Regions from separate parts of the Homo sapiens genome. Here region 2 is linked to region 1. Evidence: fine-mapped expression QTL. A gene starts in region 1. The other region holds a variant in brackets. All regions are shown on one strand. Distances are between the middles of the regions.

Evidence for each region. PIP is the estimated chance that this variant, and not a neighbour inherited with it, causes the effect. A credible set is the group of variants that fine-mapping cannot tell apart.
Region 2: its variant is the best candidate, but not a certain one, in a credible set for the expression of DNALI1 in minor salivary gland (GTEx, PIP 0.89).

Annotation. Positions count from the first base shown.
Region 1 is chr1:37,555,134-37,558,039 of GRCh38, forward strand. It overlaps DNALI1 (dynein axonemal light intermediate chain 1), which reads left to right and starts at 1,807. Exons shown (of 6, transcript NM_003462.5): 1 at 1,807-1,942; 2 at 2,470-2,615. The coding sequence starts at 1,862. It also overlaps the pseudogene RPS27P9. RefSeq lists enhancers at 414-1,384, 1,595-1,889.
Region 2 is chr1:37,268,054-37,270,959 of GRCh38, forward strand. No RefSeq gene overlaps it. Among named protein-coding and RNA genes, the nearest start is that of MIR4255, 110 kb to the left of the region's middle. The variant A/AT (reference allele first, on the strand shown) is at 1,198.

The DNA of each region.
Region 1 (2,906 bases):
CTCAATGTTCCTTTCCAGTGCCCATCATCTCTCCCAAAGCACAGGTCTTTATCTGCCTAAGATCCAGACTACCAAAAGGAATAATTGTTTCTTTCTTCTCCACCCAAGAATGTAATCACACCTGACCAGAGACCCTTATACTGTCAAAAGTAGCTATTTACAGCCGAGCACGGTGGCTGCAGCCTGTAATTCCGGCGCTTTGGGAGGCCAAGGCAGGAAAATCGCTTGAAGCCAGGAGTTTGAGACCAAACTGCCTAACATAGCAAGACTGTCTCTACAAAAAAATTAAATTTGGCAGGGGCTAGTGGCTCGTGCCTGTGGTCCCAGCAGAGACAGGAGGATCGCTTGAGCCCAGGAGTTGGAGGCTGCAGTGAGCCGTGATGGCACCACTGCACTCCAGCCAGGGCTACAGAGTGAGACCCTGTCTTCAAAAAAACCAAACCAAAACAAAAAAAAAAACACAAAAAACTATTTACAAATTTATCTCTGTTCCCTTATTCATTCATTCTGCCTAGTAATCCCTGAACAGAATTCCTCCTTCTCCCACCCTCACAAACCTGTTTTACCAGGAGGGTATATAAGCTTCTGAACCCTTTTCGGGGTGGGTAATCATACTGTGATTCTCCCCGTGTATACATTTTAAATACATTTGTATGCCTTTTCTCCAATTAATCTGCCTTTTGTGAATTGATTTTTGAGCGAATCTTCAGGGGGCAAAGGGGAGGTTTCCCATTGGCTCCTACTTTGTCATTTCTCCATTTAATTAGAAAAATACTTCAGGCTGGGCGCGGTGGCTCACGCCTGTAATCCCAGCACTTTGGGAGGCCGAGGCAGGCGGACCACGAGGTCAGGAGTTCGAGACCAGCCTGGCCAACGTGGTGAAACCCCGTCTCTACTAAAAATACAAAATTTAGCCGGGCATGGGGGCACGCGCCTGTAGTCCCAGCTACTCAGAAGGCTGAAGCAGGAGAATCGTTTGAACCCGGGAGGCGGAGGTTGCAGTGAGCCGAGATCACGCCACTGCACTTCAGCCTGGGCAACAGAGAGAGACTCCGTCTCAATTTAAAAATCAAAACAAGCCCTTTCTTGCGGTGACGACCTACCCACGAGAACATGCCTCTCGCAAAGGATCTCCTTCATCCCTCCCCAGAAGAGGAGAAGAGGAAACACAAGAAGAAACGCCTGGTGCAGAGCCCCAATTCCTACTTCATGGATGTGAAATGCCCAGGATGCTATAAAATCACCACAGTCTTTAGCCATGCACAAACGGCAGTTTTGTGTGTTGGCTGCTCCACTGTCCTCTGCCAGCCTACAGGAGGAAAAGTAAGGCTTACAGAAGGATGTTCCTTCAGGAGGAAGCAGCACTAAAAGCACTCTGAATCAAGATGAGTGGGAAACAATCTCAATGAACACATTTTGGGAACAACTACAACAACAAAAAAAACCTTCAAAAAACCTAGGAACTCCAGATGACTTCCTTTGGGAATTGTCCCTTAACCCTTCATGAGAAGTCAGGAGATGACTCCTGTTTTTCAGGTGACAAAATTGGAGCATGGCAAAGGTGATCTGCCCACTTCAAATCGCTAGCTAGACGGAGCATAGGGACTCGAACTGCCGTTTTCCTCGCCTCCAAGAGTACAGGGACGAACCGGTGAGCAGAAGGCCTAAGAAGTCAGGCACAAGAGGTTTCTGCCCAGGAGGCACAGAATGAAACTTGCCGGCTGTTGGCCCCGCCCCACTTCGAAGCTCCGCCCAGGCCAAGAAGCGCGGGGGCGGGAGTGAGGGGGCGGTTTCCATGGTGACGGCAAACAAGGCCCACACTGGACAGGGCAGCTGCTGGGTTGCTACTCTCGCCTCCGCCATGATTCCGCCCGCAGACTCTTTGCTCAAGTACGACACCCCAGTGCTGGTGAGCCGGAACACGGAGAAACGGAGCCCCAAGGTAAAGACGGGGGCTCGGGAGACAAAGGAGCCTCGAAACTCCGATAGGGAAAGACACATTCCCGCATGGAGGGTCAGGAATCTCAAGGGACGGGGATTGCAGCGACTGGGAGTAAAGGGAATTGGGAAGTCAGAGAAGGAGGGTGAGAGGATTGTATAGGAAGCCCAGATGTTGGGTGTGACCCCAGAGGGCAGATTTAGGATGGGGAAGGAGGTCACAGGGAGATGGATGGGGCTCACTCTTCTTAATGGTACGCGGGTCCAAGAACAGATGACTAGGTAGTGATTTCCCCATCACCAGAGGTGTGAAAGCACATGCGCCAGAAACACCTGTTCAAGCATTGAGTTGGGGCCAGACTTCATGGCCTCCTTCAGCTCTGTGACATAATTTCTGCTGAGAAGACCGACCCAAAGTAGGCTAGGAAGAGGGGAGGGCTGTGCAGAAGACCTGGAGCAATATACAGGTTGGGGATGTGTGGAGCTGAGCTCCTGAACAATTTCCTGCCCTCACCTGTGCCTTCATCTCAGGCTCGGCTACTGAAAGTCAGCCCCCAGCAGCCTGGACCTTCAGGTTCAGCCCCACAGCCACCCAAGACCAAGCTCCCCTCAACTCCCTGTGTCCCAGATCCTACAAAGCAGGCAGAAGAAATCTTGAATGCCATACTACCCCCAAGGTAAGAAAGTAGGAGCAGTGGCTGGGAGAAGGCCTAAGCTTTTACATCGTGGATTTTGGGAGTGTGGGGGGAGGCACTCTGCCTCTGTTCCTGGCTGGGGTTTCCTCCCAGTATCACAGAGCTCCTAGAACTTACATATGGCTGGATCCTGGCAGGGTGGTGGGAGACCTCTTCTCAATCTACCCTCATTTCCTGCATGCTGTCACCCAATCTCATGGCTTTAGATACCACCTATGTGCTGATGGCTCCCAAATGTGTATTTCCAGCCCTGTCTTCTCCACTAAACTCCAG
Region 2 (2,906 bases), 290 kb before region 1:
CCAGGGCCACACAGCCAGAGTTCAGGTTTGAACACAGGTATTCTGGCTTCAGAGTTCAGGTCCTTAACCACTGTACTATGCTGCCTGGAGCAACACCCTGTCCCCATCTTCCTCCCTGGCTTCTTCCCTTCTACCTCTATTTGTTTTTTTTTTTGTCTGCCCCTCCCCACTGCCCCTTAATGACACCATTAGTCCATGAGGACAGGAGCTTTGTCTGTCTTCCTCTCTCCTGCTTCCCCAGCAGCTATAGCAGCGCCATGCAAGCAAGGGTACCTAACATGTGTGTATTGACTGAGTGACTGAATGCATGAATGAAGTGCTGTAATCTGCTCCACCTCCTCCTGCTCCTTCTCTGTAGGACGCACTGCATGGCATATAGGTTTTTGGGGAACAGTTCTTCAAGGCCTGGGTACTGAAGTGACTCCTTGTCAAGACAGGACAGCATTTGTATCAGGCTTCCCAATTTAAACCTCCTCCTAAGGCTGGGCACTGTGGCTCATGCCTGTAATCCCAGCACTTTGGGAGGCCGAGGCAGGTGGATTGCCTGAGCTCAGGAGTTCGAGACGAGCATGGGCAACATGGAGAAACCCTGTCTCTATTAAAAAAAAATACAAAAAAGAAAAAAAAATTAGCCGGGTGTGGTGGTGTGTGCCTGTGGTCCCAGCTACTCAGGAGGCTGAGGTGGGAGGATCATTTGAGCTTGGGAGGCGGAGGTTGCAGTGAGCCAAGATCACACCACTGCACTCCAACCTGGGTGACAGACTGAGATCCCATCTCAAAAATAAATTTTAAAAAAAAACTTCTCCTGCTACAGCTGGTTCTAGAAGGGCAAGGGAGACAAAGAGGCAATGAATTTGTCTGTAGTTCTTGAACTGCAGTGGGCTGTAGGGGGACAGGCAGGACAAAAATGCAGAAGGAGTATTGAGCCAGCTAAGAGAATACGCCCATGGGCCAGCCAGCAAGGAAACTGCAGGACCTCTAAGTCTGCACATGGTCAGGGGGAAAAAAGGAAGGACTCCTCTTACGGAGCACAAATTGCATCCTTTAGGAAAGAAGTCATTATACGAAAAAGATACTTGCACACCGGAGTTTGGTGGCAGCTAATAATGCATGTTTATAGCAGCACAATTCCCAATTGCTAAAACGTGGAACCAGCCCAAATGCCCATCAATCTAGTGGATAAAGAAACTGTGGTTT[A/AT]TATATACTATGGAATACTACCCAGCCATAAAAACGAATTAATTAATGGCATTCGCAGCAACCTGGATGGGATTGGAGACTATTATTCTAAGTGAAGTAACTCAGGAATGGAAAACCAAACATCCTATGTTCTCAGCCATAAGTGGGAGCTAAGCTATGAGGATGCAAAGGCATAAGAATGACTCAATGGACTTTGGGGACTCAAGGGGAAAGGGTGGGAAGGCGGGTGAGGGATAAAAGACTACAAACTGAGTTCAGGGTATACTGCTTGGGCGATGAGTGCACCAAAATCTCACAAATCACCACTAAGGAACTTACTCATGTCACCAAATACTTCACCTGTTCCCTAAAAACCTATGGAAACAAAAAAACTTAAAAAATAAATTGCATCCTTTAGGATTGTTGTGTCACAGAATTGTCACTTATTAAGACTGTTATAAGATAGGAACTAGTGAGGGTAAAGTGCCGGTGTCCTTAGGTGACCATAAGGAAAATATGGGCCAGCAAAGTGAGGGAGCTGCTAAAGAAATTTAGTTCGGTCTTAGGCTTTATCAGTAGGAGTATGGTGTATAGATTAAGGGAGACGATTGCCTCACTGCACCTTCCCGGGCCACACTTCCCTGGAGTGTTGCATGTAGTCCTTACCACACGTTAGGGGCACCTCAAAAACTTTTTTTTTTGAAACAGAATCTCACTCTGTCGCCCAGGCTGGAATGCAGTGGCACGATCTTGGCTCACTGCAACCTCCACCTCCTGAGTTCAAGCAATTCTCTTGCCTCAGCCTCCCGAGTGGCTGGGATTACAGGTGCATGCCACCATGCCTGGCTAATTTTTATATTTTTAGTAGAGACAGGGTTTCGCCATGTTGGCCCGGCTGGTCTCGAATTCCTGACCCCAGGTGATCTGTCCACCTCAGCCTACCAAAGTGCTGGGATTACAAGCGTGAGCCACCACACCCAGCTTCTCACCAACTTTTGAATGCACAAATGAGACATTCCCAGACCCACTGCAGGAACTGTTGCTGTCAGCCAGGAGGAGAGCAAATCCAGAGACCCTGACCTTTGCAATCCCTGAAGGCTCCCAGGAGATGGAGCTCAGTTTCATGAAGGAAGAAGGATTTGAGTGCTAGGAATTGTATAGTAAAGGAGCCTCACCCTAAAGAGAGTGACATTCCTGTCATGAAAGGCGATGAAGCCAAGACTCACCGCATTTGTGAGGAGATGGCAGCGAGGATGCTGAACCTGTGAAGGGGGTGCCTGGAGGGACGAGTCTTGCAACTCAGTGTGGTGCACCTGCCAGCAGCATCCATCACCTAGGAGCTTGTTGGAAACAAGGAGCCTCAGCCCCCAGCCCTAAAAATCAGAATACACATTTTAACAAGATCCTTAGGTGAGAAGCACTGGGCTAGAGGCTGGGGGTGGAGTAAAACCCTGTCAAAAGGGAAGTGATGCAGTCACCTGTTTGGAGGGCACCAGCTGAGCACCTACCTGTTGTCAGGCCCCAGAACCCCCTTTGGAGGAATTTCCACTCTGTTAGGGGCAGCAGACTCCTAAATAGGCAAGCAGCATAGAAGGAAGCTCCGAGTGCCAATAGGAGGCAGTGCAACGTGGGGTGGTCAGTTCTGGGGGAGAGTGAGACAGGAGAACCACCAGAAAGAGCTCTAAAATAAGGCCCAGAGCTGGCCAGGCATGGTGACTCATGCCTGTGAT